Regions from separate parts of the Homo sapiens genome. Here region 2 is linked to region 1. Evidence: fine-mapped expression QTL. A gene starts in region 1. The other region holds a variant in brackets. All regions are shown on one strand. Distances are between the middles of the regions.

Region 1 (5,373 bases):
TTAATATGTTTTTCGAAGTGGAAAGAGACTTGGAAGGACTTTCTTACTCATTGTGTAGCTTTAGATCCTGCAAGTATTCAGAAGATCAATTCCCATGGGAGTTAAGCCCAAGTTCTAAAGAGTTTAAAACCTCTCGAAGAGGAAGGGGCCACCAACATACTTGTCAAGGTTGGGTCCAGGAGCAAGGAGGGATACTCAGAGATGAGTTCAGTGCTCCTCATCTAATTTCTTCCTGCAAGGGATGACTATAGACAGTGGGATTTCTCACTCATCCAAAGAAGGACAGCAGCAGGCTGAGTAAATATGAGAAACGTGGGGTTGGGGACAGAGCTAGGGGTGGAGACCTGACTTTCTTTCACTTGCAGGCAACTTGTGTGATCATGGCCACAACTCCTCTGGCCCTCAGTGTCCCCATCTGTGAAATGAGTAATAGCATTGGCCCAGAGCTACCTGAATAGCCCAGTCAGCTCCAATGTGTCATGATTTCCATCTCCAGGAACAGCCTCGAGTGTCCAGTCTCTGGCCAGCTATGAACTTCACAGTTCATGACTCTAGTCCAGATTATAAAATGGCAGAGTCCAAACCACAGGTTCTCAGACCTGCAGCTCTATGGGCTAAAATGCCCCTCTGCACACATCTCTCCAGAGTGAACCTGTAACTCCAAACGAGGAAGGTCCTTGGTGTACTCTGAAGCTTGGCACGTCACAATGCCAAACATTGTGGCCAAAGCCATAAACAGGATGGAGCCTCCTGAGCTGGTAGGGGAGGGCAGGACTCTCTAGCACTCAGACTTCAGGGCAAAGGTACAAACCGCCCCAGGGAGGTGCAGGATCAGCCCTGCTCTGGCAGGCATGGCTCTCCTGATCAGCATGGATGTTTACTTTCTGCCCCAAAACTGAGTGGGACCCAAAGATACTAACACATCTCTTTTCTTTTCCAGAAGCTAGACAAAAGGACATTTCAGAGCCAGATAAAACTGTGTGAGCAGCTCTGGGGAAGACCTAATGTTTCCAGTCCAAGATCTGAAATATATTTCAGAGAGCAGGTGATGTGATTCAGGGGCTGGGGGAAAGGGAGAGGAGGGGCAGTACTTTTACCAACATAAGTGGCCACTGCAAGAGCTAAGGAGGTAGGAGCTTCCCTACAGTCCCCCCACATGGTCCCCAAGGCACTTACCCTCACACTGCCTGCCTTCCCCTTGGTAGCCAGGCTTGCAGGAGCACTTGTAGGAGGTGGGTGTGTTCTGACACAGGGCGTCGGCATGGCAGTCATCTAGCCCTTGGGCACACTCATCTACATCTGCAAAAGAGCACAGCTGACACCTGGTACAGGCTCCCAGGCCATGTGTGATCTGGCCTCGGCCCTGTCTGGCATCATCCTCACCAGCCCACCCCGCTTCACTCCTCACAAGCTACAGCTGCTTGGGATCCCTGGGATAAACCAAACTGTTTCTGGGTCCCTGTTTCCAGGAACAGCCCGGACACTCTACGTGAAATTACCCCCACCATCACCTACTGGCCTTCAGGACTTAGCTCAAATCCACCTCCTCCAGGAAGCCTGCCATGACCCCCATTGTAGCTGCCCTCACCAAGTGCTCGCATATGTATGGCTTTGCATGCACACATCAGGCAGGGTTGTCACTGTTTTCCTTCCTCTCTCTCCACTAGACAATGTCTTGACAACAGACTGCGTCTGTGTCCCTTATGCCAAGCCAGCGCAGTACCTGGCATGTGAGTAGGCAATAGTACCTACATGCCCGCTAAAGGAGGAAAGGACCAAACGGACAGACAAGCTCTGAACACCAAGCAGCTGTCTGTCAGCTTTCTCGGAGCTCAGAGCAAGCTTGTCCAACACAGCCCGTGGGCTACGTGCAGCCCAGGACAGTTTTGAATGCGGCCCAATGCAAATTCATAAACTTTCTTAAAACATTATGAGATTTTTTTTTTATTTATTTATTTATTTTTTTTTTTTGCTCATCAGCTGTCGTTTGTGTTGGTATATTTTATGTGTGGCCCAATTCTTCTTCTTCCACTGTGGCCCAGGTAAGCCAAAAGATTGCACCCCGCTGGTTTAGAGTATTTATGGGAAGTCTGCCCCGGGATCGGAGCAGATGTCATCCAGGGCTCTCAGATGCTGCGAAGCGGGGATGGTGTCCCCATGGCCGGCCCCCTGCACTCCCACCCCTGCCCATCCTCTCAACCTGGAAACCCGCCTTGGCAGAAGTATTTCCTGGGTTGACACTACTCCAGGATATTAATTAAAAACAAAAGCATTTTGAAAGTATTGCAAGTCCAGTAAGCACAGCACGTCCAGAGTCCTCTCTGGAAACCAAAGTTCTCTGCTGAAAACCTAGGCTTGTTGCTGCTTCAGGGTAATTCCCAGATCGGAACAGGCGCTGTTCCGCTGACAGAAAAGTCTCTGGAGCCCACCCCGAAGCCATCAGCAGAACTTGCCGGCCCCCAAAGAAAGAAACGGCAAAGCTGCCACCGCCTCGCGGATGTGCCCGGCCCGGCCCTCAGTTTCCCCGCCTACGCTGAGGCGCGGGACCCCAAGGCCAGGGTCCGCACCCTCCTGCCTGCTCGCCGGCGACGGTCTGACTAGCAGGCGCTCTGGAGGCATCCGGACCGGGGCGGGAACCGTCAGCAGCTCCGGGTCCGAGGCCGGGCCGAAGGACTCAGGGCCCCAGCGGTCGTGGCGCCTTGGCCCGGCCGGCGGGTGAGGTCCCGGGGGGAGCAGAGGCCCCCGCGGAGCTGCAGCCGCCAGCCCCGAGCCCCGCGCGCCCGGCTCTGGACTCCGCCGGGGACCTAAACACTCTTCCTGGCCCTGCCTGCTGTGCCAGGTGCGCCCCCGCGGCCGGACACTCACCCTCCTGCGGCCCCGCGGCACGGCCCCGACCCGGCGGGACGGCCCCCGCCAGCAGCAGCAGTGGCGGCAGCAGCAGCAGCAGCAGCAGCACCGCCCAGGCCGCCCCGGGACGGTTGCGGCCCGCGACCCCCATGGATGGCTCAGCGGTTGCGGGCAGAGGCGGCGGAGTGCGGGCGGTGGCGGCGGCGGCGCGGGGAGGTGTGCGCGGACGCCCTGCCCGCTGCCGCTGCCACCCCCGGCCCGGCCCCGCCCGCCCCCCGAGCCCCGGCCTCATTTTCACACGGTCCCTCCCGGGCCGGGGCGGGAAGCGCAGGCGGGAGCAGTGCCGCCCCGCCCGGCCTCCTCCCGTCCCCTCCCCGGCCTCGGGTGGAGGGGGCGCGGCCGCGGTGGCCCGAGCGCGGCTGTCAGCCTGGCGGGGCGGCAGCACCGTGCCTCGCGCCCCGCGCAGCCCTGGCACCCAGCCCGCTGCCCCCCGCATCCCCGCTCCGCTCCAACGCTCGGAGCCCTCGGTGCCGCGCCTGTTCCAGTGTGTTACAACTCGACCCAGGCCCTCATGTGAGGACAAACAGCCCTTCTAGATTGAAATATTCGGGGTCAGGGCGCCCAGAAAGTGTTCCGTATAGTCCCCAAACCCCAAAGCCATCTTGGGGCTTTCCACGTGGGAGGTGGGAGGTGGGAGTGGAAGGAATTGGGGGTGACTTCCAATTCGGGAAAACAGCTGTTTGAATGGAGAAGGTGACCCTGGCTTCTCTGCCCACCCCAGCACACCCTCTGCACCCTTCTCCACACTGCCCACCCCAGGCCCTCTGGGATCCTCCATCCCACAGCCCTGAGGGCACTGGTCCACTTGTCCCACTGTGGGGCACACTGGGCCTAGAATCCCTGCAAGCTACTTATGTATATCTCAGGGCAGCCTAAGGGGAAGGGGGCTAGAGGTCAAAGGTGAGCCACCAGAGACAACAGACAGCAGCCCCGACTTTGCCGGAGTACAGGTGGCATTTACGATCACCTGAACTCATAAACATCAGGTCTGGCTAGCTTCAAACACAGGCAGGGCCTAGCACCTAGCCTTCCATGAAAGACAGTCCTTGCAAGGGAACAGGTACACAGGGTCTTCCCATATCACACTTGACACGGATGGCTGGAGCCCAATACACCCACCATCACTCCAGGAACAAATATAGTAACAATTTCCGGACGCAACCAAACATCACACTTAGGGATAGTAATGTTCTTCACTGAGCTTCTCCGTATTTATTCAATTTTCTCCTGCGATTATATACATACACATATGTATATATGCAGGCACACGCACGCGCGCACACACACACACACCATTCCTTTGGAGATCAGAAAAAAAATAGATGTCACCAAAAAATCCCCACCTAGCTCATGCACAAAAACTCTTATGTCTTCTTGGGGCCTATCCACAGCCCAGAGCTCCCAGCCTCTGCACCCTCAGTACCCACTGTCTGCCACCCCAGCCCCCGAACATGCCCACGGGGGCCTGCCTCTTTGGGCTGTGGCTAGTGCAGCTGCTTGATGGAGCTATCTGAGAAAATAACTTTTCTGTAGTTGTTTTTCTTTTGACCCTTTCAGTGAAGGCAGGCAGGTTGCGTCCCTCTTTCTGTCTGCGCCTCCCTCCCACTCCCTTTTGTTTGGTGCTGAGAGAGACACTCAGCTATTTCTGGTCATAAGGGTGGTTTTTACACATTTGTAAATCTTCAGTTAGTGAAACGTTCTCTCCACCTTTGTCTTTGTGTCCTTAATGGTAGCCATAAATTACTGCCTTCTTTTCTCTCCACTGCATCAGGCTTCATTGCTTTTGAAATGATCAAAGTTATTTCTTTTAAAATCCAACTAGAAACTGCCCATTGTGTGGCACAGACCTCTTTAGCTCCAGTTAAAGCATATAAATACATAAAGCTGCCCATTAAACTCTAGGGGGAGCCTCCTGCAGCGCCCTTGTGCCTGGCAAAGAAATCACACATGTGCTATTCTTCCCCTTTACCTTTCCCTAACTTGATCTTTCAGTAAGGACATAAATTAATAATGACAAGAATCAGCGCCTTTTTGCCTAAGACTGTCAGCTTTTGTCATGTTTCCCAGAAAAGTCCACCACTGGCACAGATCTCAAAAAATGTTCTGTATCCTATTTTGTTTGCGCTGACATCCTTACAAACGTGCTTTCAGCTGTTGGCTCCCAGACTCCTGGGCAACCTTTTTGACACTTGAGATTAAAGTCAATATGGCTTACAACCGGGAATTTCCACAGGGGGAAGCTCCAGGGGAAAACTGTGTCCAAATGTCAGTGTTTTTGGTGTCAGGAGGAACTTGGTTGGCTCTACTCTGGCTGCAGGCTGCCCTCTATTCTGCAGCTGAGGTCCCCACAAACTTCTCAGAAAGGCCTCAGACACCGTCCCTGGACTGAGGCTAAAGCTCCCTCTTCCTCTCCCTGTCTCCTCTCCACAGGCTGAGAGGCCATGAACCAGGCCTCAGGGGTGCGAA
Region 2 (5,373 bases), 34 kb before region 1:
TTATTGCCCAGGCTGGAGTGCAATGGCACAACCTCGGCTCACTGCAACCTCCACCTCCCGGGTTCAAGCAATTTTCCTGCCTCAGCTCCCAAGTAGCTGGGATTACAGGCATGCGCCACCACGCCCGGCTAATCTTGTATTTTTAGTAGAGACAGGGTTTCTCCATGTTGGTTAGGCTGGTCTCGAACTCCCGACCTCAGGTGATCCGCCCGCCTTGGCCTCCCAAAGTTCTGGGATTAGAGCCGTAAGCCACCACGCCCAGCATATCCAATCTTCTAAAGCACAAGACTCAGGACTGGTCAGGAAGTATTTAAGCCAGTGGTTCCCAAATCCTATAGATCCTCAGGAAGATGACCTTGGAAGTCCTAGACATTCTGAATTGGAATCTGAACCTGTATTCTCAAAGATTGCTGGGTGAATCTGATGGCTGGGGGAGTGGAGTGGGAGTTAGTTGGTAACAAATCCAGTTTATGGCATAGCCTGCTTGACCATGAGGTTATGAGACATGAGAACATTTTGCAAAATGGGCACAGAGTGGAGAGAGAAACTTCATAGTTCTGCTTCCAGCTCAAAGACCTAGTTGTGGGACTCAAACCAAGGCTTTGCAGCCAGTTCCTATGCATAGCAGGGCTGTGGAATTGGTGGGTGCCCCCCAAGCCTCTCTGAGGACTGTGACTTTACTATCTGCTGAGATGTTCCAATAGATAGGTTATCAGCTCCTGAGATACCCTTCCACTCTCTGAATACAGCCGCAAGTCAATCAAGTCGATAGAGAATTCACAGCTGGAAGAGCTCAGTTCTTCTCTCTGCTCCATTTCACACTCGGTGTGTTAAAGGGATACATGTGGGGAGATTTCCTTTAGCAGATCCTGCTCTCAAGTTGATGGACTCACCGCTATTGCTCAGGGACTGCAATGTACCTTTCATACCCCAATGTAGGAAAGCAAACCTCAGGGGTAGGCCCTGCTCCCCTCCAGGCCCAGCCTCATTCCCCTCCCAACTTGACAGGGGCAGTCTGCTCACCTCCACAGTGGGTGAAGCCATACAGGGTGTACCCTCGGTTGCAAGCACAAGCAAATGTGCCAGGGTGGTTGATGCAGCTGTGGTCACAGGTCCTATCCAAAGAGCACTCATCCACATCTGTAATGGTCAAAGGGAGAGGGGAGCTGAAACCCACTCTGAGGGATGAGTGAAGAATAGGTTTATGATAAATACCAGTTGCTGACCAACACCAAAAACAATACACACAGAGTAAAAAACATTATCTATCCATTTTCCTCACTCACTTGTGTTAAAGAAAGTGTGGAGCAGCCCACAAGAAGTATACTGACTGCCACGGCCCTCATTTCCACATTCTGTTGCAAACTGCACTTCCCTCAAAACTCAGTTGGTCTCTTTCACCCATGCGTACTTGCAGGGCTAATTTAAAATGTTTAAATGAAGCCAAATGAGATAACATACCTAAAAAGGGTTTTGTAAGCTACAGGTGCTAGCTATGCATTTTTATTGTCATATAACTATTAGTAAAACAGCAATATTAATTTATTAACTACGGCAAATTGAAAGGAGAAAACACTTGGTTTGGAGGTAAATCTAGTTCCCATCCCTTTCTTATTTTCTCAGAATTAGTCTTCTGGCCCCAAGAGGCCAGTTAATCCTAGGTTTTAATGCCCTCTGCACTGAAAGAATGCATCAATACTAATATCCTCACTAATTTTCTCTTTGCAGGCCCTGAAATGTGGTAGTTCAGCTCCACATTGGATGCTTTTGGCCGATGCCTTGGTTTTGCTCCTCCCCTATGTGCCAGTCCTATGAGTCTGCTAGCCTCCTGGTTCAGTGTGGAAGCCTCCTTGGCTGCAGCGGGGGTCATGCACAGCAGCCTCAGGAGGCTGCATTTGTCCATCTCAGCATCTCTTTCCCTGGGTCTGGCCCTCAACCTCTTTCTTGTAGGCTGGAATTTGAGTGCTTCACTCCCTGAACTCTGGAGGATTTTAACATAGTTACGACTTGTGTCTCCAAATGGATAAACCAGGACCAGTGCCGCACTCAGTCGAAGCCAACTAGACCACTGCTAGACCACTTTTTTCAACACCGAGTGTGCCATGAGAAACTATGTTAATAAAAGGCAAAAATGTGGAAGGAACAGGAAGAATGAAAAAGCAAAATAAAAAAGGGCAAATTCTTGCAAAACCTCTTCATCCCTAGCTTTTCCCAGAAATCCTGGCATTTCTTCAGTAAATTTGTTCTGTGCAAGTATTTGTTCTACCAAGACCGATCAGTGAAAAATGAGAAAAACCTAGTTTCTTCCCTAGGAATTGATGCCATTTTATGAAATCTGTTATTAATATCAGCCAGTTGTCGAGAAAGTGCACTTGTTCAGTAGCTGACTTTGGCTGCTCAGTATGGGCTTTTGCTTTGCCAAAAATAATGAGATCACTTTTCTAATTCCTTTTTAATGTGTTTACACAGCTTCAACAGTATTGCCTGCTCTATACACTAGGAAACATTATGTGGAACAGCAAATTTGCTTTCCAAGTCAAACTGAAGAAAACCACACAATAATTATCTAGAATTAACTTACTGAATTTAAAGAGGAATATACTTGAACTGCCTGACAAATTATGCATTAAGAACAAACCAAGAGAAAAACAAAACAAACATCACACCATAATATTTTTGTAAAAAGGTAATGCTACATCTTTGTTATCTAAGATGAAATCTGATACTCTGATTTTTATTTAATTCTGATTTTTTTTTTTTTTTTTTTGAGATGGA[G/A]TCTCGCTCTATCCCCCAGGCTGGAGTGCGTGGGCATGATCTCGACTTACTGCAACCTCTGCTTCCTGGGTTCAAGCGATTCTGGTGTCTCAGCCTCCTGAGTAGCTGGGATTACAGGTGCCCGCCACCGCGCCCTCCACCATGCCCCCACCTAATTTTTGTATTTTTAGTAGAGACGGGGTTTTGCCGTGTTGGCCAGACTAGTCTCAAACTCCTGGCCACAAGTGATCGACCTGCCTCAGCCTCCCAAAGTGCTGAGATTACAGTGTGAGCCACCACACCCAGCCTAATTCTGAGATTTCTAACAAAATAAATTAGTCCTTATTCCCAAAAATGGAGCAAGAATACATTACAGCACATCTTTCCTGAGAACTTCTTCTGCATATCAAAGGGAAGGTGCTCATCTAAAAATAGAAAACAGCTTTCCCCCACCCAAAACAGCTGCTAATACTAACAACAACTGCTACCTAGAGAAGTCTCCTTGCTGCAGCCCTTATATGGGAAGGATGTGTTTGAGAAGGGGTCTGAAATCCTCTCTAAGGATCAACAAGCATCTCCTCCCCACAAGCCCTCCCCCTCCCTCTCTGCCTTCCCTCTCTTCAAAGATCAAAGGCTGATGGTTTAAAGCAAGTGCTGGGCCAGGTGCGGTGGCCCACGCCTGTAATCCCAGCACTTTGGGAGGCCTAGGAGGGCGGATCACCTGAGGTTAGGAATTCGAGACCAGCCTGGCCAACACAGTGAAACCCTGACTCTACTAAAAATTCAGAAATTGGCCAGGCGCAGTGGCTCACACCTGTAATCTCAGCACTTTGGGAGGCCGAGGCAGGCAGATCATGAGGTCAGGAGTTCAAGACCAGCCTGACCAACATAGGGAAACCCCGTCTCTACTAAAAATGCAAAAATTAGCCGGGTGTGATGGTGCGCACCTGTAGTCCCAGATACTCAGGAGGTTGAGGCAGGAGAATCGCTTGAACCTGGGAGGCGGAGGTTGCAGTGAGCCAAGATAGCTCCACTGCACTCCAGCCTGGGTGACAGAGCGAGACTCTGTCTCAAAAAAAAAAAAAAAAAAAAAAAAAAAAAAAAAAATTCAGAAATTAGCTGAGCATGGTGGCAGATGCCTGTAATCCCAGCTACTCGGGAGGCTGAGGCAGGAGAATTGCTAGAACCCAGGAAGGCGGAGGTTGCAGTGAACCAAGATGATGCCACTGCACTCCAGCCTGGGCAACAGAGTGAGACTCTGTCTGTAAATAAATAAATAATTAAAAAATTAAAAAAACAAGTGCTATAAGAAAGAGACCAATTGGTACATAATCTTGATCATGGGTTAACTCCAAGTTTTTGCTAGGGAGGTATGTTAACTAAATCTACAGACTTTGCCACCAACTTTTGTGATAAATTCAATAACATTAAAGGAAATTTTAGAAAAGGAAAATTATTCATAATCTCAACACCCCACTGGAACCCCATTTGCATTCTGTTTTCCATTCCATTTCTAGCAGTGAGCTCTGCTGTCATCACATCGATGGGTTCTTTAAGGTGTTCTCTAACCATTAACAGCTTAATTTCCAAATACACCTGTGAGCTACATCAGTGTTTTTATTTTACCTAATAGATGAAATGAGTGAAGCCTAGGAAGGAGATTGGATTAGTGGCCCTGTCAAGAAGCCTGATAAGCCAGTCTCTGCCAGGAGGGTGCTACGTTCTCTCTGCTCCAACCTGTGGGCCATTGCGCAGCACAGCTATGTTTTCAGCACATACCTTGGCAAGACTTCTCATCTGTTAATAATTTAAATCCTTTCTTGCAGCCGCAGTCAAAACTGCCCACGATGTTTTTGCAGAAATGATCACAACCTCCATTGCGGGTCTGGCACTCATCAATATCTGCAACAGGAAAGCATTGGGCATATCAGAGAGCAATACTTGCCTCATTTCCCACAACTCCCTGAAGGGCCATTGTGTGTGTTCATTAGTCTCTGAAATTAAGAAAAAGACTCACAAAAGCATTTAAGAATGTTTGCTGATGTTTTTAACCTTATACATGTTTTCTTATCTGGCTTAACCAGTTTTGAAAGACAAGTGTTTCATCGTCTTGAGAACGCTGACTTATGATGCCCTTGATTGGCATTAAGGAAACAAACTCTGGGAAAGAATGATGACGTCCTGTTATATTCTCATCTTTGTATTGCTCTCTCAAGGTAAGATGGGTCTCTTTAGTACACTATGTATTCAAGTTTAATGATTAAAGCTATAAAGGACTAGAGCATTTGTTTTGGCAAATTACACAATGATCAAATAGCCTCAATGTTTTAAAATGATTCCTGATACTCAATCTTATCTTTTCCCAGTTTCGTCTGGCAATTGGTTATCTACTTTTTATCATGCTAAAGGGCTAATCCTTTGTACTCTTGCCCATGAAATATGAGCAAGTCATTGGGGTCGCTCTTCATCAGTAAAAGTTAATGGTACAGTTATTCATTAAGTCCTCTGGATAATCATCTTGACTGTTATTTATATAATAATCTCTAGGCTATTATGTATGATATGTTGATATTATCTCCTGCAAATGAATGCTTCCTTTAACTGCCTTTTTCTAATAAG

Which allele goes with the higher level. Positions count from the first base shown, and alleles are read on the strand shown. Sizes are in standard deviations (SD) of each study's normalised expression.
As copies of G replace A in region 2, the expression in thyroid of the gene that starts at base 3,069 in region 1 goes down (moderate effect, 0.47 SD a copy in GTEx).

What was found.
Region 2: its variant is fine-mapped to the expression of SCUBE2 in thyroid (GTEx, PIP 0.90).

The regions. Positions count from the first base shown.
Region 1 is chr11:9,088,531-9,093,903 of GRCh38, forward strand. SCUBE2 (signal peptide, CUB domain and EGF like domain containing 2) reads right to left here and starts at 3,069. Exons shown (of 23, transcript NM_001367977.2): 1 at 2,866-3,069; 2 at 1,177-1,299. The coding sequence starts at 2,998. It overlaps MIR5691 (microRNA 5691), which reads right to left and starts at 1,849; the gene lies at 1,782-1,849.
Region 2 is chr11:9,054,770-9,060,142 of GRCh38, forward strand. SCUBE2 (signal peptide, CUB domain and EGF like domain containing 2) reads right to left here. Exons shown (of 23, transcript NM_001367977.2): 9 at 4,534-4,656; 10 at 1,024-1,140. NRIP3-DT (NRIP3 divergent transcript) reads left to right here. Exons shown (of 3, transcript NR_183663.1): 2 at 4,839-4,970. Among named protein-coding and RNA genes, the nearest start is that of MIR5691, 33 kb to the right of the region's middle. The variant G/A (reference allele first, on the strand shown) is at 2,776.